Homo sapiens: one gene and its partners. The protein of the gene in region 2 interacts with the protein of the main gene of each other region in a biochemical or structural test. Each region holds a gene or a part of one and is shown on either strand. Other genes may lie near its edges. The genes, in order: SHROOM4, PDZRN4, DLG5, MTNR1A, PLCB2, MAP4 and CYTIP.

Region 1 (3,500 bases), on a different chromosome or scaffold from region 2:
CTTATTGCCTCCCATTTTCTACTTCAGAAGTATTTAGAGATGCAAAACTTGCAAATATCCCCAGGCTTTGCTTTCAGAGATCTGACTTGTTGGGTTTTTAAAAAGACAAATCCTTTCCCCTTTCTCCATCCTGTCTCTGTTGGAGACCCAGGTCTAAACTGGCTGCTCTTATATCCCGGTTATGACCTATTACCATAACACAAGCTACCACCATCCCCCAGGCTACTTCTGGGAGGACTCCCTAGGTCCTTGCCTACTCACTGCCAGATTACTTCCCCATGGCATCCCTGATGCCATCTTTTGGCCGGTGCATTCAAACCAGAAGTTAATTCCTGTGTTCAGCTGTTGCATACACAGACACTTTTGAAATGACTTAGTATCTGAATTTGCTCAATATATATCCTTGGTAAAAAGGAACTTCAAGGGTGATAGAAGCCTTACACAAAAGACTATGAACTCTACAATTCCTTTTATATGAAATTCTAAAACAGCTATTCTATGGGGGAACAAATTCAGAACACTGCTCGCCAATGGGAGGTGGCACAGAGATTGACTGGAAAAGGGCAGAGGGAACTTGTGGGGTGGTGACAATGTTCTATATCTTGGTAAGAGTTTGAGTTAAACATATGTACCTGTCAGAACTCAACAAATGTATAGCAAGGCTCCTAGACAGCCAATGCACTTAGTATTTGTGCATTTCACTGGAAGTAAATTTTGCCTAAAAATGTTGTAAACAAATATTAAACTTTATTTAATATGTATGCTGAAGTGTGTTTGAAGTATACTGCTGTATTCAACTTATGTTTTCAGCATACAAATCTTGTACATATTTTGTTATATTTGTCCCTGAGATTTTATGAAAGCGCCGAATCCTAGCCACCCAACCACCAGGGATATTTGTCCCTAAGATTTTATGTTTTTAGATGCTATTATAAAGAGTATTATTTTCTTAATGTCAAGTTGAAATTCTTGATTACTAGTCTATAGAAATATAATTGAATTTTGTGTATTGACATTGTATCCTGCAACCTTGCCAAACTCACTTATTAGTTCTAATAGCTTTTTGGTGGATTATAAAACATTTTCTACATACACAATCATGCCATCTCCAAATAGAATTTAGTGTCTTCCTTTCTCCTGTACATGCCCTTTTCTGGGAGAGAGAAGAGCCTTATTGCACTCTCACCTTCAATACAATGTTTGGAGGAAATGGTAAGAGTGGACATTGTAGCTTTTTTCTTAATCTTTGACTATAAAGTTTGATGTTAGCTGTAGGATTTTTTTGTAGGTGCCCTTTAATTGAGGAAAATCTCTTTTATTCTTAGTTTACTGAGAGTTTTCATCAGAAGTGGATGTTGTATTTTTTTTCAAATGCTTTTTCTGTATCTGTTGAGATGATCATATAGTTTTTCTCTTTTAGTCTACTGATGTGGTGAATGACATTGATTGATTTTTAAAATAAATAGAAGCCTAGCATTGCCAGGATAAATCCCACTTGGTCATGATGTATTATCCTTTTATATGTTACTAGATTTGCTAATATTTTGTTAAGGATTTTGCCCTTATGTTTATCAGGGATTTTAGTCTATAGTTTTATTATAACATCTTTTTCTGTTTTTTGTTTTTTTTGTTTGTTTGTATCAAGGTAATGCTAGCCTTAAAAAATGAGTTGGGATGTATTCCCTTCTCTTTTATTTTCAGGAAGAGTTTGTATAAAATGTCTTCCTTAAATGTTTGCTTGAATTCATCACTGAAGCCATCTGGGCCTGGAGGTTTTTTGGTAGAAAGCTTTTTAACTACAAATTCAATTTCTTTAATAGATTTGGGGACATTTAGGTCATCTATTTCTCCTTGAGTAAGCTTTAGTAGTTTGTGTCTTTCAAGAAATTTGTCCATTTCATTTACATTTTAAAATTTATGGGGATATAGTTGTTTTCAACTTACTTTAAAATGCACCAGGATTTTAAGATGGATTGGTAGATGGATAGAGGAGTAAATGGATATATGATAAGGCAAATATATCAAAATGTTAATTGTAGAATCTAGGTGCTGGGTATATGGGTGATCACTGTGAACTTCTTTCAACATTTTTGTATGTTTGAATATATTCATAATGTTGAAAAAAAGAGGAGAGGAAATATAAAATAATGGTTTTAAGGGCACCGAAGCTGGAACCAGACTGCCTGGTTTTGAATTTCTTCCCCCGAACTTACAATGCCTAAGCTTTCCCATCTAAAAGCATGGGGGTAGTAACAACACCTACTTCATAAGTTGGTTGTGGGGATTAAGTGATGTAACACATTTAAGACTCAGAGCAGTGACTGCCAGATTGTAATCATCTTATAAGTGAGTTATCATCTCTTAAAGGGACATTTTGGCTTAGCTTGAGAGACTTTTGCTGGAAGAAGGACTCACAGATAGACAGTAGACAAAGGGGGCTGAGATTGGGGGTGAGTGGGGCGGGGGAAGTGAGGAGATGACGGCTGCAGCGGTGTCAGCCCAGGACCAGCAGCTCTATAAGAGATGGAGGTACGATTTGCAGGTTGCAGCAATTGGCAGCAGTAATGCATGCGGGTGAGGCTGTGCCTACACCATGCCTCTATTTTTTGTACTCTGAGGGAGGGATACCTTGGGTTCCTAATGCTTGTTAGACCAGCTAAGCAGGTCTGCTTAGATACTAGGCATTCCGACACGTGGATGGCTGCCTAGGAGACACCACATGCCCATTTCTGCCCATCATCTGAACCTTCCACTCCTACTCCACCCCCCTCAAGAAATGGGAAAAACTTGCAGCATGGGTTAAGATGCCATCGCTCTGATGACTCAGGTACTTGTGGTGGTAGCTATCTGAAGTAGGGCTGAGATCCTGCTCCTAATGCCCCTGGACGAGGTTGGTGAACTAATTGTCTCCTGTTCAGTGCTGTGAAGACTGAAATCAGCATGCACTCACGTCCTTCATACCAGCTTGTTTTTCATTCATTGTCAAATTATTTCACTTACCAATTGTATGGGATAAGTTATAATAGGATCTCCCATTTTACAGCTGAGGAAGCTGAGAAAGCCAAGGCTCAGAGAGGTCACACATCTAGCAAGTGGCAGAGCCAGAATTTGAATAACATGACAGTAACTAGCATCTCAGTGTCTACTGGGCACCAGGTACTATTCTAGATGCTTTACATGTATCAAGTCATTGAGTTCTCAAGCAATATTATTATCGTGATTATACTATTATATAGTTGGGGAAACTGAGATAAAGAGAAGTTGAATGGCTTGCCTGAGGCCGCAAGTGAAAGGCAGGTGTGCGATTTGAATCCATGCTATCAAGCTCCAGAGGCCAAGCTCCTGACTGTGCTACACTGCCTCTCCATAAGCTGATTGCAAAGCCCAGGCCCTCTCTAGTGTGGCCGGATGCCCTCTAGCAGTATCACTTCCACTGGGACAGCAAGTTCCCATCACAATCTCCATTTGCAGCAAGCGGTGGGGATAACTGCCTCTTTGAT
Region 2 (3,500 bases):
GAAGAAAGTGTAAACAAAGAGCCATGAATGATTATCCACCCTTTCCCACTCTGGAGTTATGGTTGCATTGCCTGCTATCAGTATCATAGAAATAAGAGAGGAGACTGGGCACTATGGCTCACGCCTGTAATCCCAGCATTTCAGGAGGTCAAGGTGGACAGGTCGCTTGAGCCCAGGAGTTCAAGACCAGCCTGGGCAGCATGGTGAAACCCCATCTCTACAGAAAATTTTTAAAAAATTAGCCAGGTGAGGTGGGGTGCACCTGTAGTCCCAGCTACTTGGGAGGCTTAGGCTGGAGGATACCTTGAGTCCCAGAGGTAGAGGCTGCAGTGAGCTGTGATCATGCCACTGCATTCCAGCCTAGGTGACAGAGCAAGATCCTGTCTCCAAAAAAAAAAACCCAGAAAAAACAAGGAAAAGAAGAAGAAGAAGAAAGAAAGAAAGAATAGAGGAATCGATGCTAAAAGCAACAGTGAACTTTGTTTCTCAACTCCCTCCCACATACCACTTAGGCATCCTAACATGATGATAACTACAGCAATGGTCATGCCTTCTTCCAGAATTGTGCCCAACCTTCGATAGGATCAGGGATTTTCTGTGATTCCTTTGATTCTTGAAAGAATGAAAAACAGCATGCTTTTATTCAGCTGTATACTGTGGTGAATTCTTGGTGTATGTGAATTTCTGTGATGTTTCAAAATGCCTTCAACAATATCTTCTGCCTTTTCAGTCTCCAGTGATATTTTGACACCTAGTGTAACTCAACTATCACAACTGATTTTTTAAAATTTACAAGCATAAATAGTTTAACAAATATGGATGTGGAAATAGCTAGAAACTGGTTAACATAGTTGCTTGTGGAGACTGACTCCAAAAATTAACTTGCCTTATATTATGTGAAAAATATGACATAGGTTTACCTAATGACAGTAATTTTTTATTCTTTTATTATTCTTGAATTTTATCAATAGAATGCAAATATTAAAAAATAATACGTGTTACTAGCCTTTGTTGAACTGTGGCAAAACTATTATAACTAATATATTATTTATTAGAGTTTATAAAATCTTTTTAACCACCAACAGAACAAAACCTTTAACATGTCTACTTCCTCTTCAAGTGAATAACTTTGGAAAATTTTATTATTTTTTAAAAACAATTCATAAACTTGTATGTGTGCATCAAGCAATTAGCTACAGAAAATATTTTTGAGCATATCTTGACTATATATAAACCATAGAATCTCTTATTGTTTTTATTTTTTATTTCAGTTATATATCAGTAAATTCAAAGCATTTAGTAATGTGTCAGATTGTGCATAAGTCATACGGATAATTTTATAATATATGAACTAGTTTGTACCCTTTACACTGTTAACAAACTTACTTGTTGCACCAGGTTTAAATCAGCATGACCATTTGAAATTCAAAAATTGAGCCATTAAATTTGTTCAATGAACAAATCTTTGATCACAAAACAGAAAATAAATTATTATCTTTACTTTAAAAATCTGTTTTAAAATATGCATCTGCACATTTTAAATTGATAGATTTCTTCTCAATTTCCAATTAGCTAAAAACTGCTTAAAGTTGATTGATATCATAATGACAGAGAAACTAAAATAATGATAAGCATCAAATATTTCTAACTTTAATGATTACATAGGGATCTTTTACAACACACACCATATGCACAAGAAAAAACACACTTCTTGTTTAACTAGATATTAAAGTCACACAAATATCTATTCACTCAAAAAGCCGATAGCATCACTGAACAACTAAGCAAGAGCAATTTATTTCTAATAATCTTCTTTCTAAAATATTTCATGCTATTTAACACACAACATTCTAGAAATATGCACCTCATCTAACCCATTTCTTAACTGCAAATGTGGTCACATTGATCCATTCTACAACTATAGCATATATACATAAAATCAATGTACCCTGGTATAAAAGACACATTGAAAAATCTATATCATTGAGACAAATTTCAAGCTCTAGTCATTAACTGCTAATATATGCAAATGAAAGTGAATAATAATACCGCAGCTAGTTAAATTTCATTTGAATTTCTGTGGTTGACCTCCTTACTTTTTATCTTACAGGGTTTAAATAAGGTTAATCTGACATATATTAGTAACAGTACTATGTAGGTGTCTAGATGCACTTGATTTTCAACCATAGTTTTATAAAATTACCTCTTTAAAAAAAACAGTAGGTTTGTAACCAAATTGTTGTATGACAATATAAAAAATTCTTTTTCTTTTCTAATGTAACATTAATGAAGCATACATAATATTGTCATCTAGCTAGAATAAGTTATTTTTTAAATTGCCAATACGTATTTCTGTTGTGTCTATGTGTTTGTGTGGGTGTAACAATATATGTATTCAGTTCCATCAGTTCTTCTAATAATATCAAATGTAGGAATTTATTTTCCATTGGTAACTGGACAACTTAATATGTTTTTGAGATAATGCAGAAAGTAATAGGGACAATCTTCTGTTTAAAGTATGTTGCCCTTTAGATCATACTGTGCACATTCTAACTTTAGAAGCTACAGCATGTGAATGTTTCCACTAGACAAATTGTCAAGATGAACTGGATAGCAACAGCAAAAGTAGGTCTGCACTTTCTCGGCAACAAAACTGGAAGAATAAAAATCTTGATACAAGAGACCTCTTTAGATATAAATCAAAGTTTTTTTTTTGGCAAAAGATAACTCTTCTTTTTTTTCTAAATTTTGTAGTCGGCTAATTTATAAATGTTGTGTTCTTTTTTCCCAAAACAGCAAACTATTGGGTCTTCTATATTCTTCACTCTTACTCTATGTCGATTCATTAAAAATTCAACTTTGTTTAGTGCACAGAGGATGAATGAAAAGCTAAAACTTTATTTAAAATTTAATATAGAAAATCTGCCTCCATTCTGATAGTTTATATAAGTATTCAGAGAGATAGCACTAGTGATTATATAGCCTAGAGTGAACAGAATTTTTAAAAACAATAGTGGAGTCAAGTAAACCTTCCAAATTCCTATTTATAGCTTCACTAATCCATTGGAAATAAACTCACTGATAAAAGTAACTTAACCATTTTTGGCAACAAAAAGTAATATTATCTTAACCAGTTAATAAAATGTCAAAAGGACAGAGATGGCAGATGGCAGGGACATAAAATTTCATTAACATAACCCAATTTTACTAGCATATAGGTGCTCACTTTATCACCCCCGAATACAACAATACAGTTAAAACATACAAAGAGTTCTCACCAGGTTTTCACAACAAAGAGAAAAAAAGGTATTTCTCTTTTTCTTTCATATAAAAGATAATGACAGGAACAAGGTAGCCATATTACACCAAGAAATATTAAAAGTATTGTATAATTTATTCCAAACTCTACATATAAAATATTAATTACAAATTTAAAATATAATCATAGTTCCTCATCAGAAATGTTCCTCAACAGAGATTTATCATCCTTTTTTGAAATG
Region 3 (3,500 bases), on a different chromosome or scaffold from region 2:
GTTGCCTGTGCTTTTATTTATTTATTTTCTGAAACAGGGTCTCCCTCTGTCACACAGACTGAGTGCAGTGGTGCAATCACAGCTCACAGTAGCCTATACCTCTTAGGCTCAAGTGATCCTCCCACCTCAGCCTCCAGAATAGCTGGGACAACAGGCACACTCCACCACACCTGGCTAATTTTTTTGTTTTGTTTTCTGTAAAGACAGGGTCTCACTATGTTGCCCAGGCCGGTCTTGAACTCTTGGGCTCAACTAATTCTCCCACCTTGGCCTCCTAAAATTCACAGGTGTGAGCCACCAAACCCAGCCCAACTTGTGCCTTTATATTCTCACAAACCATCTCCCCCATGAGGCAGGAGACCACAGAGAAAGACCATCCTCTCTCATCAGAACAGAGTCCTGCAGCTACATCACCTGAGGGCGAGCACCCCCTGATGCCCAGGGCCTGAGCCAAGGCTCTGCCCTCAGGTTCCCTCAATGGCCTGCCTGGCTTCACAGGGACCTCCTCAGAAGGGCTTGGCAGGATTCTGGGTTTACAGGGATTAAAAATCAACCCTGGCCAGGCACAGTGGCTCACGCCTGTAATCCCTGTACTTTGGGAGGCCGAGGCGGGTGGATCACCTGAGGTCAGGAGTTTGAGACCAGCCTGGCCAACATGATGAAACCCCGTCTCTACAAAAAATACAAAAATAAATTAGCTGGGCGTGTTGGCGCATGCCTGTAATCTCAGCTACTCAGGAGGCTGAGGCAGGAGAATCGCTTGAACCTGGGAGGCGGAGGTTGTGGTGAGTTGAGATTGCACCACTGCACTCCAGCCTGGGCAACAAGGGCAAAACTCTGTCTCAAAAAAAAAAAAAAATCAATCCTGAGGCTGGACACGGTAGCTCATGCCTATAATCACAGCAGTTTGGAAGGCCGAGGCGGGCAGATCACTTGAGGTCAGGAGTTTGAGACCAGCCTGGGCAACATGGTGAAACTGGTCTCTACTGAAAATATAAAAATTAGCCGGGTATCGTGGCACATGCCTGTAGTCCCAGCTACTCGGAAGGCTGAGGCAGGAGAATCGCTTGAACCTGGGAAGTGAAGGTTGCAGTGAGCTGAGATTGTGCCAGTGCACTCCAGCCTGGGCGACAGAGCAAGACTCTGCCTCAACAACAACAACAAAAGTCAGCCCTGACTGGCTCACCAGATGAGAGGCTGTACTCCTCCGTCTTTGGTGCCACCTGAGATGGCAGCAAGCCCACTGTGCAGGTAGATGGAGGCCTGGCCTGCTCAGCAGCTCAGAACTCACCTCCAGGATGAGGTCCCCTGGCACGAGGCCGTCAGGACCCTTGGCAGGACTGTCATCCTCCACCTCGGCCACAAACACCCCATGCAGGTTCCCACCACACAAGTGCACCCCAAGCTCCAGCTGGGACTTTTTGATGAAGACAACGCGTGGCTCCAGGGTCTTCTTGTTGGCATCTCCCGCAATCCTTTCAGGAAAAAAACAAAGTTCCTCAACTGTGCACAAAGAGGAGGCACAAAAAGACAAAGCAGTGGCCAATGCCCTAACCGCTTTCTGCCTGCTTCTTGGGGTCTCAGAACCACAGGGAGCTGAGAGGTGGCCTCTAGTTCTACTGGCTCGGCGTTCGGGACAGGATGCTAAGGTGCACTGGAGATGAAGGCAAGACCCCAGGTCCAAAGCCAGTTAGCGGGGGCAGTCAAAACCGTAAATCAGTGCCCCTGCTCCCAGGCCCGGCTATCAATCTCATGCCTTAAAGATCAGGATGGCCTCCCTCCCATGTGGATCACACTCATTTTCCTAACTTAGTACTTCCTAAGGAAAGGTAAAGTTGGCCTCACTGTCCAGAGCACAGCAATGTATTCAGCAAATGTCTACGAAGAAGCTTCTATAGACCAGCAACTGCTAACTTGTGAAGAGGGGCCCCTTGCCATCAAGGCACTTACAATCAAGGAAGGGAAGCTGAAAGTAAGCTGCTGAACACATGGAGGGAGTGAGATGGGACAGCGATGGAAACAGATACAGGGGGCTTCAGGGGAGATGCCAGCCCGGGAGGAAAACCTTGCAGCAGGTAAGTTCCAATGTGACAGACTCTGGTATAGAGAATGCAGAGCTGGCCTCATTCTGTGAGATGCTGCCCAGGGCTTGGTGAAGGCCTCTCAGTGCTGGAGACACAGCTCCTCCAGGACGGCAGAGTGATCATGTCACACCATGGCCTGGATGGCCCTCCCTGCAGCCCCAGGCCAGGCTGGACGCTGTGCAGCTCCCATGGAGCTCCTTCCTCCTCCTGAACTCTGCTGCTCCCTCGGCCTGGACTTCTCTTTATGCCCACTCTTGGCTCTTGCCTGTCCTGAACATTTTAATCCAGCTGCCACCTCCCCTGCCACACTCCAGTGATCTTCCTGCCTGCTCTGCGGCGGCCGGCAGTGCCCTCCCAGCACCCTGACTCTGCTGCACGTGCCCGGCACTGGTCTGCCACCTCATTGGGGGAAGCACTGCTGTGGGTGGCCAGAGCCCAGGGCCTGGCCGGGTGATGACTGTGGGAATGTGTCCAAAGACAGACTCAGAAAGCGAGTGAACAAGAAAAGGAGAAGAGAAAGAGAAGATGCAGGGGAAAAAACAAGTCAATAGAAAACAGGAGAAAAAGAGAAAGGAAAAGAGAGAGTAGGGAAGGAAAAAAGGAATGCCGTGCTCCCGGCCCAACTCCTGAAGACCTGGTGTGCGGCCTGCAGCACATGAGGCCAGCTGCCCAGTGCCCACGCCACTTGGAGAATGTGCTCAGCCCCACCCAGCCGAAGCGGACACAGGGAAGGCTCACAGCAACGTCTGCTGACCTGGAGCTGCTCTGCTTGGCTGGGGGGGTGCTAGGCCCCTCGTCCTGCTCCATCAGTGGGTCGATGACAGATGGATGCTCCGGGGTGGTGGTGCCACTGCCCTGGAGAGTGGAGTGGGTACCGGCAGGGTCCAGGTGTGAGCTGGAGGCGGAGGACAGGAGGGATAAGGAGCAGTACGAAGCCACCCAGAGCCACCCCCACTCCTGTGGCAACTAGATCTGAGCTATAAATGGGGACCAGGTCACATAGCCCTGCACCCTGTGCCCTGAGCAGAGCAGACACATTAGAAGCCTGGACCCATGACATCCACCTGTCCTCTCCCCTCCACCTGTCCTCAGCTCAGGGGCCCTCTCCAAAGGCATCTGACCTCAGGAAGCTGTGAGCATCCTGTCTCTTTTCCTCTGCCTGTGCATCCCATCTCTCCTGCTGAGCTTGTGGCGCAGCACTGCAGGGCATGCCTCCCCTTCTTTTCTGCCCTTCAACCCACAGCTCAGGGGCAGATACAGACAGGTGTACAGCATCTGCTCCTGGACAGGGAGCCAAACACTTTGAGTGAGAATCCACCCCCGGGGCCACAACTCCTGGCTACCATGGGCCCCTGCTGGTCAGGGGGACCACAGCCATCTGTTTCCACACCCCATTTCAGGAGGAGACAGCCTCTC
Region 4 (2,706 bases), on a different chromosome or scaffold from region 2:
GAAATGCCAGAAGCCTTTGCTCATTTGCCCACCTAGTGGTAAGAGCTTCCTCCTTTGAAGGGTCTTAAAGCACTTTATACTGCTTTTTACTCAGATTAAATTATAATAAATTCAATTCAGTTTACATATTAAATGCATATATTTGGTGCAGGGGGAAACAGGAATTGAGAGACAGGAAAAGTCAAAAAGATTACACTAGAGTGGTTGGGCGCAGTGGCTCACACCTGTAATCCCAGCACTTTGGGAGGCCAAGGTGGGTGGATCAACTGAAGTCAGGAGTTCAGGACCAGCCTGGCCAACATGGTGACACCCCGTCTCTACTAAAAATACAAAAATTCGCTGGGCGTGGTGGCGGGCACCTGTAATCCCAACTACTTGGAAGGCTGAGCCAGGAGAATTGCTTGAACCTGGGAGGCAGAGGTTGCAGTGAGCAGAGATCGCGCCATTGCACTCCAGCCTGGGTGACAAGAGCAAAACTCCGTATCAAAAAAAAAAAAGAAAAAAAAGAAAAAGAAAATTACACTAGAGTAAGCAGCAGCACCAGAGCACGCACAGACCAGAAGCTGTGAGGAAAGGGGTGCGCTGGACAGGGACAGAGGGAGCCCCAGGTGGACGGACAGAAGATTTCGCCTTCTATTCTATTGACCTGTAGGCCAGGCTTCCCTGCGTCTCCAGATGGTGGCCCTCGTGAGTACATTTCCTCATATTTGCGTCCTAGACCACACCCAATAAATACAGTGACTTTTGCTCATACACTCAATGAGTTCATTAAACTGTCACTTCCCAATATTTGAAATGAGACAGCCCATAGCAGTCAAGATGAGAGAAAGGCAAAATTTGTGCCATTTATTTAGGAATTTCAGATAAATTGTCATAAAAGCAAATACTTTAAAAATTGGTTGTATTCATCCAAATTAAAGTTACAAAGGCAAATTTATTTTCCCACAGATCACTTTCAATTAGCGTTGAAACATTTAAATTCCTAAGAGGTGTATTTTAATAAATTATTTAGCTCAAAATGTTTAATGCTTTAAAAGCATCTATAATATGTGAAATTCTGTTCCAAATCAAACTGTCATTGTAACAGCACATTTGTTCCCAGAGTGTCATGATGACAAACTGGCCTAATATGGATTTATTTTTAAAAGAGCTTAAAAATGAAATCACAAATGATGTCATAAATTTCTTTCATGGCTCGAATACCCTGCTTCATTTATTTTATAGTAATTATGTTGCATTACAATTCAAGCAATTACATTAATTAGATCATTGATTCTTTGAATTAATCCCATTTTACAAATCTTGGTGAAAATTAATTAAGCCACAGACTCCCCACAGGTGCGGCTGTCAGGTAGCTCACATAAAGCTTTAGCACCAGTGTTCATGTGTGCCTGGGGGGTGTGTGGTGTCTGGGCGGAGAAGGAAAAAGGGAATTTCCTTTTTTCTTTTATGAACTTCACCAGATAAGAGTCATTAAATCATCTAATTATAATTATACACATTATAAGTTCATCTATTCCATTCTCAAATCTATGTAACTCCAGACATATGGACAATCTACCCATTTTTACAGATATCCAGGACTGTATGCAACAAGCTTAATAATGCATTCTGAAATGTAAAATAATGTCTGTTCATGGGTAAGAATTTCTTCTCTGTTGAATATAGTTCCAATCCTTACTGTGGCAGAATCATAGAATCATAGGATGTTAAAATTGAGAGATGGGTTAATGATCTCCCTGGATAATTCCTACTTTTTAAAGATGAGAAAACAAAAATATAGAGTTAAATTGGATGAAGTCGTACGACTACTTAGTGAAAGAGTCAGGATTATACCAATGCTATGAACTGGTGAGTGTTGTTCAATGTTATTTCCCTGAGAAAGCTCCTGTGCTCCTACAGATACGAGACTCAGAAACTGGGCCCTGTGGCTACGTCCTGGCTTACAGCCTCTCCAGGCACAATTCTGAAGAAGCGTATTTGAACTAGAACATTCTAAAGAGAAGATGGGGGAGGAAAACACCTAAGTCAGTATGCTGGCAACAAGACGAACAGCGATCAGCCTTGTGGTGATTAAAGGCACCAACTATAAAATGCACAGTCAATATTTGTTCCCAGGAATAAAACCTTAAAGTGGAAGTGAAATATGGCACAGATATGAATAAAATAAGGTAACAGACAACTAAAATGTCAGCTTGCTGGGAGTACCTTCCTCAGAACTAGTCCTGTGAGTCCCTTCTGGGAATGACACAGCAGCACGACGTTGCTTTTCTGTTTATCGCGATTATGTCTCTACTTCTCCCCATCTCCCACAGCCCCAGCTATCACCTCGGTGAGGACACTGCCTGTCTTAGATATCTTCTCCCTCCACCTTGAACAGTACCTGGCCGAGGGTTAATCGATGCACAGTGGGTTTATATTGTGTCAACTTCGCGAAGCTGAAAAGACTTTTCCTTGCACCGCTCCGGGTTAGTGTTCCCCACAAGAGGCAATTGCGTGAGATTTTGAAGGCGGAAGTGCAGCAGTAGCTTGCTCTCTGCCCTCAGTATGTCTGTGTCAAGTGCCAGACGCCACCACAAGCTCGGCACTCCGAGTCTCATCTGCTGCCCTGCAGGGGGTGGGTGACGGCAGTGTGCTCACAGCTTCTCCAGCTCCTGCTCACCTCCTCCTGGCTTGAGATTCGACCATCCTCCAGAGCTCCAGTCC
Region 5 (3,527 bases), on a different chromosome or scaffold from region 2:
CCAACCCCCTCACCGACTCCCCTCCACCGACCCCCGCCCCCCGTACTCCCTCTGAACAACAAAGGGCTTCTCGCCAAGCTTACTTCCTCTCCCTGCAGCAAATCTCCAAAATGATGGAGCTGGCCAGAGAGAAACAGGCGGCAGAGCTGAAGGCCCTGAAGGAGACGTCGGAGAAGTACGACTGCCTCCCTCCCACACCTGCTTCGCCTCCCAGCAAGGGCTCAGCCGCACAAAACAGCTCCTTCATGCCTGTCTCTCTGCAGCGACACCAAAGAGATGAAGAAAAAGCTGGAGACAAAGAGACTGGAGCGGATCCAGGGCATGACCAAAGTCACCACAGACAAGATGGCCCAGGAGAGGTGAGCCCTGGAGGGGAGGCCCAGGGCTGGGCAGACCCCACTTCAGGTGGAAAGGGGCCTCTCTACAAATGGATCCTGACTCACTTCCCAAAGATGCATCTGTCCCCTGGCTCTCCAAAAAGCGGATCCCCCCTGTCACCTTTGATCAGAGTGTCCTCCTCAGACAAAACACGGAGGCCAACACTACATGGGCAGAGCTCTGGAGGCAGCCAAGCCTGCAGGGAGGGAGCTGAGGCCTTGGGATTGTAGCCTGTCCACTGTGGTGGCACTGTTTCCCACGGAAGGACAGTGTGTTTTGATGGGGAAATGGTTCCCTCAGAGGGCCCCAGGACTCCCAGTGGCCCCTACATACTCCTTGGGTCCCCACACCTGCCCCCAGCTGGTTCCTGCCCTATGTTGGATTTCTCATTTGCCTACATCCTGCGTAGACTTCATGTTACCCTACTCTCCCTAGGGGTTTTCTCCCTTTTCTAAAACTCCAATTACACCAACAGGTTGAAGAGAGAGATTAACAACTCCCACATCCAGGAAGTAGTGCAGGTGATCAAGCAGGTGTGTAAGGGCTGTGTCCTTCCTAAACACACACACACACACACACACACACACACTCTCTCTCTCTCTCTCTCTCTCTCTCTCTCTCTCTCTCTCTTCACAAGTAGGAAGGGGTGGCCCCAGGCCCTGACTTTGCCCTTAGGAGATGCACTGCCTAGCGCTGTCCATGCAGCTGGGGTGGCAGGGGACATCCTGGGGTTCTGGCCTGTGTATGGAGGTTGGGGTACCAGCCTGAAGGGATCTGTCTCTGGCCAGTTCTCATGTGTGGAAATGATATGGGCTAACTGGCCCATATCAGGGCCAGGGGAGGCTGGGACTGGCGAGGGTCAGGGGATGAAGAGGGAGTGAGGAAGCTTCCTGAGGTGCCAAGGAATAATGGACCTGAAGCTCCCCTAGGGATCATTAACCACAGAACACAGCTGCCACCTACTGGGTCCTGACCTGTGCCAGGCACTCTGCCAGGTGCCTCACATGAGCTGTCTTGTATAATCTTTTACAGTCCAGTGAGACAGGTGCTGCTATCCTTATCTTACAAATTTTAAAAACTACCTAATGTTAAGGAATTTGCCCAAAGTCTTACAACTAGTTAGCTGGGATTACAGCTGGATTCTGACCCAGCTTGCCTGTCTGTGTTGTCCTGATTCTCTGCCATCCACTCCCACCCAGATGACGGAGAACTTGGAGAGGCACCAGGAGAAGCTGGAGGAGAAGCAGGCGGCTTGCCTGGAACAGATACGGGAGATGGAAAAGCAGGTAACAGGTTCACTACTGGGACCCCCAGCAGAACTGAATGGGTTCCGGGTTGTAAAGGGGCCTTGCCCCAGGGAGCTGCCAGTGAGAGGGTAGGGGAAGGGGGCCATCATCCTTCACTGTGGGGTCCCGAGGCCCTTTCAAATGAGGCAGCTCTGCAGATCTCCGCCTGGTTAGGATCCCCTTTCCTGAGAGGCTCCTGATGGGCTCTACCACTCCCCCACCCTGCCTCTCACCCCAGTCTCCTGGGAGCTCCGAACATGGATATTGGGCATCTCCTGTTCCCACTGTCCAGGGAGCGAGGGTGGCCAGCAGGCCCCTCCTGAGCCAGGCAGGGGTCCTTGCTGTCTCCACAGTTCCAGAAGGAGGCGCTGGCAGAGTACGAGGCCAGGATGAAGGGTCTGGAGGCAGAGGTGAAGGAGTCGGTGAGGGCCTGCCTCAGGACCTGCTTTCCCTCCGAGGCCAAGGACAAGCCTGAGAGGGCCTGCGAGTGCCCCCCAGAGCTGTGTGAGCAGGACCCACTCATAGCAAAGGCAGATGCCCAGGAGAGCCGCCTCTGATGCCCCCATCCCACTGGGACATTTAGCAAGGAGGTTCAGCCCCTTCTCTGGGATGTGGTTCTATTCCCCCAGGAAAAAGGAGCCCCAGCCTTCTGAGGCTGTGGGAACCTGTGGCTGCCTTGGACGCTGCAGCCCCCTCCTCAACGGCCAGGCCAGAGTCTGAGACAGGACCCAGGCACCCTCACGGCAGGGCCTCTCTGGGGCCTAGAAGTCTTCTCAAGCTGACTTCCTACCTCCCCCTCCATCTCTAGATAAGTGTCATATATTTGTTGAGGGCAAAAGACTATGGACTGGAAGGCAGAAAGTGGGATCCTGGCCCCACTCTGCCTTTCCTATTGAGCAACCAGCTCTGGGCTCAGTTTCCTCACCTGGAGGGTTGGACCCACTCACCTCCACTCTAGCCCCGAACCCTCCTGCCCCAGGCTTCCAGGCCCCATCAGGCCTGCCCTGAGTTGGCCTTGTCCACTCCTTGAGGCAGATCCTGGCACTACCTCACAGCTCCCTGGGGACGGCCACTCCCTGGCTGAGGGCCCTCCCCTCCCCTCTGCCTGTCCGGAACGGGAGGCTGAAATGGAAAAGCTGCCTTGGCCCTGCTTGGCTGAGTCACAAGGGGCAGTGGGCTCTTGGGTGCTGTTCCACCCTGACCCTGGCTCACCCCTCTTCCTAGGCCTGGGGGCAGGCAGTTCCTACCATGTACCCCTCTCAGGCTGCCTGCCTGACAAGGTCAGCATCATTTGCTCTCCTGAATTTATGAGGTTTATTTATTTTTCTCTTTCCTACTCCTATTAAAGAACCTCGTCCCAGTGTTTCCTGCTTAAGCCTGGTCTCTATTCTACAGGTAGAAAATGGGGGCAGGGTAGTGGAGTGCCCCTGAAATGAAACGGGCTGGGGAAAAAAAAATCTCTTGGGAGCTGAACCCAGGGTGAGGTCCTTTCCAGAGTCCAGTGAAATGGCCCTGCCTCTGGACTTGAAGAGGATTCATTTCCCCTTCTGCTGGCCCTGATGCCACAATCACTGGAAAATTATGTCACCCCCTCTTCGCCCCCACACAGATGTGGCCCTTCATTGTCTCCACTCTCGGGGTTGGAGCAGAAGAGCTGAGTGCAAAGATGTCCCCTATTTTAGGGGGAGTTCCAAACTTTTAGGCAATCTAGGCCCCTTTAGGAAGACAGAGTGGTTGGATGCTCAGGACCCTATGGCAGCTATGGTTGACCTCAAAACTTGCTGTGGAGGGGCTTGTGGGCAGCCACTCACTGCACCGATGACATGATCCCAAATCCCAAATAGGGACAGGCACTGGCTTAGG
Region 6 (4,020 bases), on a different chromosome or scaffold from region 2:
CCCCTAAGACCCTCAGTGTGAATATGAACAACTATCATTTCATATTATTTCATATATCAAGTATTCTCATTTATAATTGGGTTGAGGTTTATTAAAAAAAAAAAAAAAAGCTTTTTGGCAAAGGGAGGGACTGAAAACAAATTCACCACTGCATGGTGCCCTGCTTGAGCCAATCTGACTGGAGCTTAAGAAACTCCACCCAGTTCTGGCTAACATCAAAGGAGACTCAACACCACTCTGCCAGAAAATAAGCCCTGTATTATCTAACCAGGCACTAAGGGAACACACAGTTTTCAAGCACAGCACTTTGTATATCTGATCTTTCATTCTGATGACATGCCTGAAGTGAAACTATTAGTGAGCCGGGTTTTTTAAAATAGGTAAACTAAGGCAAGAGGCAACTACATGGCATGATGATAAAATACTCTCTTGACTACAATCTCACTATTAAGAGCTAGGTGCTCATAAACAGGAAATAAGGATATATGATGAGGCCACAGTACTTTGTTGTATGCTTTACTTTGGATAGTTCACAAACTCTGGAATTAATTACTGTACTAAAAATATTTTACAGGTCTATACAGATTAAACAGTGTTAATATCTAACTTAATTACACAGAAGTTCTGAAGAACCTTTTAAGCTCCATGAAGTCCTCCTGAAAATTTTAGGTCATTCGCATCTAGAGCCACTCACTCGGGGTCTGTGCTCATTCTGTCTGATGAGAAATTGGCAATCTGGTTTACCAATGGCCTGTTGCTGTCTCTGTCCTCTTCTATTCACCCCTTGAAAGGTGCTACTATGGGAGCTAAAATGCAGGGAAAAAACTCATGAAAAGCTAGAACAGAGCTTGGGCAAAATGGCAAAACCCCATCTCTACAAAAACATGTAAAAATTAGCCAGGCATGGTGGCACATGCCTGTAGTCCCTGCTACTCAGGAGGCTGAGGTGGGAGGACTGATTGAGCCCAGGAGGTTGAGGCTGCAGTGAGCCACTATTGCACCACTGCACTCCGGCGTGGGCAACAGAGTGAAACCCTGACTCAAAAAAAAAAAGCAAGAACAGAAGCCTGATTCCCACCATCATACTCACTTTTCCTAACCACTGTGTTAGGAAACCTTCATTTTACTGTGTCACATTAGCCAAATTTCTACCGACATTCATTTGCAGTAGCCAGCATTCTCTTTTTAAAAGTATAGAATCCTATTTCTTAATTTAAAAGTGGGTAAGAAAATGTACATCCCTGGAAAGACCATTGTTCATCCCAGAGATGGTTCTATTGAAGATGTCTGAGTTCTTGGTTCTGGTGTGAAAAAGGAAGAAAAATATTATGGCAACATGGGAACTTTCAGGGAATAAAGCAGATATAGATATGGTATCAAAGTAGGGAAAGGGTATACAGGCCCAGGAGCCCTAGGAGGCAAAAGAAAGGGAGTTAATACCATGCCAAAGACAAGCTTGCTATCTTTCAAAATATCGCCTCCTGTCAGTTTCAGCAGAAAGAAATAAACTTTCTTCTCAGTGACCTAGGCTACTTTGAGGCAAATCATTTTGAGTTCCAAACAACCCATTTAATAAACTTTAAATAATTATTACTAAAGGTAGGATACTGCTTATAATGCTCACTTATATTTTCTCTATAACTGATAGCCTGTCCTTTTTGGGTGGGTGGGGGCGGGGGCGGTTATGGACAAGACAAGGAACCATAAAGATATCTGGGTTAATGTTTTCTTTTATACGTTTGTTTTTGCATGACATTTAAATGACAGAGAATTCTAAAGCCAACACTAAGCTGCTATCCTAGGACATTAGTGAGAATGCTGTGGCCAAAATATAGTGCTCATTCCTCAGGCTTGAAAGGAACCCCACGTCGCCAGTGTGGGAGATCATTTATAATCTTGATGGATACAGGTATAGCCTGCTTCATAATAATTTAATATTCAACATCAGATTTTTTTTTAGTATGCCTAGCAGGTTTTTAGTTACTAATTAACTTTATTACCCAGATTTGTTTCTTACTGAACTTCTTTCAGAGGCCTGTTATACATCAAGCTGAACTTTGTCTGGCAGCTGTGCTGTTTTTAATTTATTTAACCACAAAACCTTGATTTATACTTTCAAGCAAAATGATATTTTACTTAAAAATAAATCTTTAGCAAGGATGTCTACAGGAATCAACTACCAACTTACACAGTTCACAGACACATATGATTCCTCAGACAAATCTGAATTTCTCCTGCTTCTCCTCCAAACCAGACTTGCAGATAGCAACAGACAACTGAGGAAGATCTTGACTATCCTGAGCAATAAACTACAACCCCCCTGAAGAATATATTAACTGTCCACCCCTAGGTTCCTCCCTACACAGTTCAAGGACAACAGCTGTGCTATTACAAACTGATGGAATTTCCAGGCTTGACAGGGTTCTGTTCGTAACCACCATTTGTCCTGTTCATCATAGGATTAGCAACAGCAGAGAGCCCTTGATTACTAGAATAGCTGAGGCCATCACACAGCTACATTCCTACATGAAAGAACACACTGATATAGGTTTAAAGAAGTTATATTTTACTTTCATGTAGTTACCAGAGTCCCCCCCACCCCCCATTTAAGGGAGCCCTGTTCTCTGGATATAAAAATACTGTATACACTTGCACACACATACTCACATACATAAAACCTTGCATCACAAAGTTAAAAGGCTACCTTGCTTACTTACAGGAACTATCCAGGCAGCTTGTGTTCAGTCCTGACTAAATGCATTTTGGATCAGGCACCTGCCTTCAACATTTCTGTCCAAATGAATTTCAATCTATTTCTCCAGGAAGAACACACCAGATACCTCCCACTGTTAGCCATGTGATACAGGCAGCATGATGTCTGAAGTCTGGTTACGGTTATGTAGGCCAAAATAAGAAATGACAATGACACAGCACTTACATTTCTGATATCACCAACCTTAAGAATGAATCTTCCATTTTATCTAAATTTTTTAAATGAGTAAAACTTTAAAAGATTCTTAATACCTAACCCCTCAAAATTTTGAAAAAGGAGCATTTTTTTTAAACTTTACATTTATCCCACTTCCTTCCTCTAACACAGGAAAACATTCAGAGTTAATCTATACCAATCCAAAAATTATTTCTAACCACATTCTAAAGGCATTTTTTTTTTTTTTGAGACAGGGTCTTGGCCTGTTGCCCAGGCTGGAGAATGCAGTGGCATGATCTCAGCTCACTACAACCTCCGCCTCCTGGGTTCAAGTGATTCTCCTAACTCAGCCTCCTGAGTAGCTGCGATTGCAGGCATGCACACCACCATGCCTGGCTAATTTTTGTATCTTCAGTAGAGACGAGGTTTCATCATGTTGGCCAGACTGGTCTCAAACTCCTGGCCTCAAGTGATCCACCCATCTTGGCCTCCCAAAGTGCTGGGATTACAGGCATGAGCCACCATGCCTGGCTCTAAAGGCTTACACCAGTTGAACTGATCTAGGATCCAATCCCCTCACTTTAATAGATGGAAAAAAAAATGAGAAATGGAAAAAACAAGTCACTTACAAATGAGGCTGAGACAAAGGATCGGCGAAAAGAGCCACAGAACACCAAAAACAGAAGCAGAGCGTGACAAAATAAGCAAAACCTTACAGTTTTGTAGTTTCTGCTTTTATCTAACACAATGACTTCGCTGTACTTCATATACCTTTTGAATTATACCTGCTTATACATACCTTTACCTACCTACTACTTATACCTACCTATCTTTTCTTCTGCAAGGAGGGAGGCAGGCAGGAAGAATCCTGAACATCAGGAAAACATTCCACCTGATCTTTAAAGGGACCCCAATGCCTAGATGTCTTTTTCTTTTTTCTTTTTTTTTTTTTTTGTAAATCCAAACTCTTACGTGTAATATCAAGGCTGACTGACAAGACTCAGTCCTATCACCCACCATAATCATCAGCAGCTTTCCATGTAGGGTCTCCCTACAATTTAGTCACATGGGACCATCTACCATCTTACATT
Region 7 (4,242 bases), on a different chromosome or scaffold from region 2:
AAAAACCAGTTAAAGGAAATGAACATCCATTTGGAAGATTGTGAAATGTTGGGATAAACTTGCATCAAGTCTCATTGATGATAATTGTACGGAATCAGAACTATCATGTACAAGAAGTTTTGTTTTGCTATTTTTTAAAGCAATTCTCACAACAGTAAGAAAAAGCTGTTTGAATATGGAAAGTCTACCACATGAAAGAATTTGAGAGAAGGGGAATGAGAAGACCTAGAAAAGATGAGAACATCTGCATAAATTAATTAGTATGGGGATGTGTGTGTGCCTGTGTGCATATGTGTACATGTATATATGCACATACACACACACACACACACACACACACACACACACACGTGTATTTCATATGCCAAAATCCCTCTCTTTATCCTCCTCTGATAATCAGCCTCTCCTACTGATTGCCTTCTTTCAGTTCACGCTATCTTCACTCTGGCTTAAAACCAGATGTGACTCCTCCGTCTTCAGTCCCTTTCATATTAAAGCCTTTCAGTCTCCTTTCTGTTCCCCCATTTCCTCTTTCTCCAACTACTGCAAAAGTTCCTCCCTCACCACTAGTCTCTACTCACTAATCCACTACATTTCTACAATAAGGTTCCTGAAATCCTCTACTTCTCAAACACGTTCAGTGGCCCTCGTGCCGGCTTTTTCAGGGGAAGTTGTCCAAGTGTTCTGTAAAGCAGCCCAGCGCTGAGATCTCCTCTCACCTCCTACACACTAACCAGGTTCTCCTGACACACTTAATATTGTGTTGTTACACAAAAAAGTCCTCCAGGCACCAGGATCTATGCCTCAGCTTCAATTTCTCCCTTGCTCTGGAATACCCTTCAATATCTGGAATACCCTTCAATATCTCGAATATCTATTTCCAAGGCTATATTTACAGATGTTTCACTTCGATGAGAGTATTCATGTTGTTTTACTTTGCAGAAAACCCATTCTTTCTGCTTACTGAATTGTAAACAGTATATGGGTAGGAAACATTCCCTTCTCGTCTTTTTACCTCCTACACTTAGCATGATGTCTGTCTCCTTGTAGGTGCTCAGAAACCATCTGTTGCATTGAATTGCATGGGCTAGAGAGTAGATCAAATGAGTAAGGTTGCAGGTATGGAGGACATAGAGGGTGGAAAGTTCCCACCCTGATTGAAAAAGTACCCACAGTCTCCAGCAAAAAAAAAAAAAAAAATCATAGCCTAATCAAGTGAACCATAGTTGGTGTGATAGTGTCATGGCAAATATAAAGAAAATCTGACTGCTTTATATCTGAAAACTGAAAAAAGATGTCAGCATTTCTCATGTTGCTTTATCTTCAGACAGGTTGTAGATTGATAAAATGTTCATCATTACATTAAACTTTGTATCATAAAAGCACTTTAGATTGAGAACAATCAATAATCCAAATCATGGAAAATTGTGCCCTTATCTTCACTCCGAAAAATACCAAGGAATCAGCTATTATACATCACTGAAAAAAGATCATGTCTCTCCCACTATGCCATACCTCTCTAATCCTGAATTTAGAAGGCTTACGAGAAGCACATGATTGTACATGCAAGACTTAAGCGCAAAAATTCTTGCTCTAGGGCAATTCTAAATATTTTCTGTAGAAATGCTACATCGAAATTCAAATATGTACCTGGGGATTTAGAGCAAGTTGTTTAAAAAAAATCCTGAAGAGGTATTATGGTTAAAAAAAAATTTTTACATGTTAGAAATTGAAGAACGAAAAAATCAAAATAAATTCAGTTAGACATAGATTTTTCCAAATGAGTTTTCATCCCTAGAGACAAACTTTGCAATAAAAATATTAAAATGGCATAATCTAGCATTTAATAAACACACACTGAATGCCAGTCACTGTGTTAGGCACTGCACAGTTCCTTATTTAACCAACATAAGAACCCAATAAGGGTGGTTCTATTATTAACTCCATTTTAGAAAAAACAAAACTGAAGCTTAGAGAGGCAAGTGGCTTGCTCAAGATCCCACAGACACTAAGTGGTGAGCTGATATTCAATCTGGCACTCATCTATCCAAAAAAAAAAAATCTTACTTTCCAATAGCCTGAGGTATGTGCCAGCAACCCAGAGCTGAAGATAATTAGTCAACAAAATTTGTCCTCAGAAAAAGTATTTCTTATTTGATTATGAACTGAAATGACCATCAAGGACTGCAAGTAAGGATGGAAGGGAAAGAATCAGTGGAGACACAATGGGGAAAAGAGAATTAATTCTCATACTGGTTGTATCTATATAAACCATCTTCAAGTTTTTTATGCTTAATGATGTTTATTTTACCTGAGCACTTCTTCAAATAAGAAAAACAATCTTAATTTTTGCCTTGAAAAAAAAGTTTGATTGTGGTCTCAAATCTTTGGACTGGTTCACCTAGCTCCCTGAGCATCTCACCTCCTTCACCCATAATAATCAGCCAGTAATTCCAAAGCCTCTAAAATATCACCATTAGTATGAAGTCAGACAAACATATCACTCTGCCCTCAAGAGAATGTGAACACTCTAAAGGGTACAAAATAGCAATCATACCTGCTTTCGTCCCCGAGGCAGAGTAGCCACCGTGTCTGCTAGCATTTGAATCCTTCTATTATCGTCCATCGTAAGGCTGCCGGTGAGTGTGGAGTAAGAGCTATACGCTGGCCCAGCGCAGAAGTCCGCCAAATTGCCATTGCTGCTGTGTTGCAGGAGCCTTTGTAAAGACATTGTGAATAAAGATCACTCCAGCTAGCACATGGTTGAGTGGCCTTGCAGGATGGGGGAAGCTAAAAGTACAACTGTGACAAGTAATCAAAAGTAGCAAAGCAGAAAGAGCCCATGTGACCTCTGTGGTTTGAGGAACTTGTTACACAAACCCTATCTTGCTATTCACTCCCATTTCTCAAAGCTTTTTTTCTTTAAGCTCCTGAGAGAACCTGGAGCTAATTTTTACAATTTAAAGAAAAATCAACTTATTTTTTCACCTCAAACAGCCAGAATTCTTACGCTTTTATGTTCTGTGGCAAGTTGCATTCACACCACCATTTGCCATTTTTTTCTTTAGAGAAGAAAGAAAAATGTCCCCAAGTGCTACCATTTGTTTCCCATCCATTCTCTTACTTAACATTAGCAATGCAATGCAGAAGTCAGCACACGAGGACATTCAGTTCTTGTGAATATGGGCAAGAATTACAGGTGCCGGTCATAATGTTCTCTCTCGAAGTCCTTGTAATACTGTACTTTCCCTGAAGTATACCCTAGATCATTAATGTTCATCAAAAAGACATTATATCTGCCACTGAGGTTGTAACCATTCAGCATTCTTCTGGTTGTCCTTTTACTACTTTGTCCTTACAAAAATTACCCATGATCTTTACAAAGTACAATGGGAAGGGAAAGCCAGCACATTTAGGGCACAATGTTGCCATTTCTTAGACGAGACTTTGCGGCAGCATCAGCAAGTGGTCCCAGGGGAGGAAAGGAGTGGGCAGGAAGGTAACAGGCAAACCAAGGTGGCACCAAGAACATTGCCTGTTGGTCCCTGCATGTGCATATGGGTCAAGGGCACCATCACCAAGTACTCAAGATCACAGATGCTTTTTTTTTTTTTCCTTTGGCTGAGGTTGGGGGCAGGTAGTTTTGAGAGAACTGGTTTCAGTGGAGGAGTAGGGGAGGCAAGTAAAAGGAAGAATCGAAACAAAAGTCAAAAAGAGAAGTTTTATATGGCACAAAAAGTCAAATGTGCTTTTTAAAATCTCTGAAGATCAATACTAGCATTTGAAAGAGTTAGCAAATCTTTGAACTAAAATGAAATGTGTGTGTACTGGAAGTGAAGATGAATTCAACTCAAGTAGAAATTGCCAAATATAAATAGTAAAATCTGAATTAATAGTGCTTCAAAAGTTGAAGCCAATTATAGATTTTAAAAACTCTATCACAGCATGACTCATTATACTGGAATTGAATTTTGACATGGACAAAGTGATATCACCACAAACATATAACGGTCTAAATCAGGAATTAAAAACACATACGTTTTCAGAAGCCAGGTAAGTAACATAAATGTGTAAGGCAAAAGGGAGTGGTAAATACCTTGGCAACTAAAGAATACATCAATTATAAAGATATTCACGTAAAATCTATATTTATAGATATGTACAGATATGTATACAGGTATATGTGGGGTGTGTGTGTGTGTGTGTGTGTGTGTGTGTGTGTATTAGGAAGACAGAGAGAGA

Evidence for each region.
Region 1: the proteins of PDZRN4 (region 2) and SHROOM4 interact in a test that uses a peptide from one of them, tested with the Homo sapiens proteins (one large-scale study listed by IntAct).
Region 3: the proteins of PDZRN4 (region 2) and DLG5 interact in a test that uses a peptide from one of them, tested with the Homo sapiens proteins (one large-scale study listed by IntAct).
Region 4: the proteins of PDZRN4 (region 2) and MTNR1A interact in a test that uses a peptide from one of them, tested with the Homo sapiens proteins (one large-scale study listed by IntAct).
Region 5: the proteins of PDZRN4 (region 2) and PLCB2 interact in a test that uses a peptide from one of them, tested with the Homo sapiens proteins (one large-scale study listed by IntAct).
Region 6: the proteins of PDZRN4 (region 2) and MAP4 interact in a test that uses a peptide from one of them, tested with the Homo sapiens proteins (one large-scale study listed by IntAct).
Region 7: the proteins of PDZRN4 (region 2) and CYTIP interact in a test that uses a peptide from one of them, tested with the Homo sapiens proteins (one large-scale study listed by IntAct).

The regions. Positions count from the first base shown.
Region 1 is NC_000023.11:50,629,195-50,632,694, reverse strand, and holds part of SHROOM4 (protein Shroom4), read left to right. Parts: intron 1-3,500. UniProt on the Homo sapiens protein: Probable regulator of cytoskeletal architecture that plays an important role in development. May regulate cellular and cytoskeletal architecture by modulating the spatial distribution of myosin II.
Region 2 is NC_000012.12:41,194,820-41,198,319, reverse strand, and holds part of PDZRN4 (PDZ domain-containing RING finger protein 4), read right to left. Parts: intron 1-3,500.
Region 3 is NC_000010.11:77,808,256-77,811,755, forward strand, and holds part of DLG5 (disks large homolog 5), read right to left. Parts: intron 3,366-3,500; coding exon of another isoform or gene 3,329-3,365; exon of another isoform or gene 3,214-3,328; intron 2,980-3,213; coding exon 2,839-2,979; intron 1,476-2,838; coding exon 1,292-1,475; intron 1-1,291. UniProt on the Homo sapiens protein: Acts as a regulator of the Hippo signaling pathway.
Region 4 is NC_000004.12:186,535,862-186,538,567, forward strand, and holds part of MTNR1A (melatonin receptor type 1A), read right to left. Parts: exon of another isoform or gene 2,384-2,706; intron 1-2,383.
Region 5 is NC_000015.10:40,287,409-40,290,935, reverse strand, and holds the end of PLCB2 (1-phosphatidylinositol 4,5-bisphosphate phosphodiesterase beta-2), read left to right. Parts: intron 1-98; coding exon 99-175; intron 176-263; coding exon 264-359; intron 360-853; coding exon 854-911; intron 912-1,577; coding exon 1,578-1,664; intron 1,665-1,996; coding exon of another isoform or gene 1,997-2,017; coding exon 2,018-2,221; 3' UTR 2,222-3,027; downstream 3,028-3,527. UniProt on the Homo sapiens protein: The production of the second messenger molecules diacylglycerol (DAG) and inositol 1,4,5-trisphosphate (IP3) is mediated by activated phosphatidylinositol-specific phospholipase C enzymes.
Region 6 is NC_000003.12:48,013,617-48,017,636, forward strand, and holds the start of MAP4 (microtubule-associated protein 4), read right to left. Parts: upstream 2,801-4,020; 5' UTR 2,718-2,800; exon of another isoform or gene 2,705-2,717; intron 1-2,704. UniProt on the Homo sapiens protein: Non-neuronal microtubule-associated protein. Promotes microtubule assembly.
Region 7 is NC_000002.12:157,441,290-157,445,531, forward strand, and holds the start of CYTIP (cytohesin-interacting protein), read right to left. Parts: upstream 2,801-4,242; 5' UTR 2,732-2,800; coding exon 2,558-2,731; intron 1-2,557. UniProt on the Homo sapiens protein: By its binding to cytohesin-1 (CYTH1), it modifies activation of ARFs by CYTH1 and its precise function may be to sequester CYTH1 in the cytoplasm.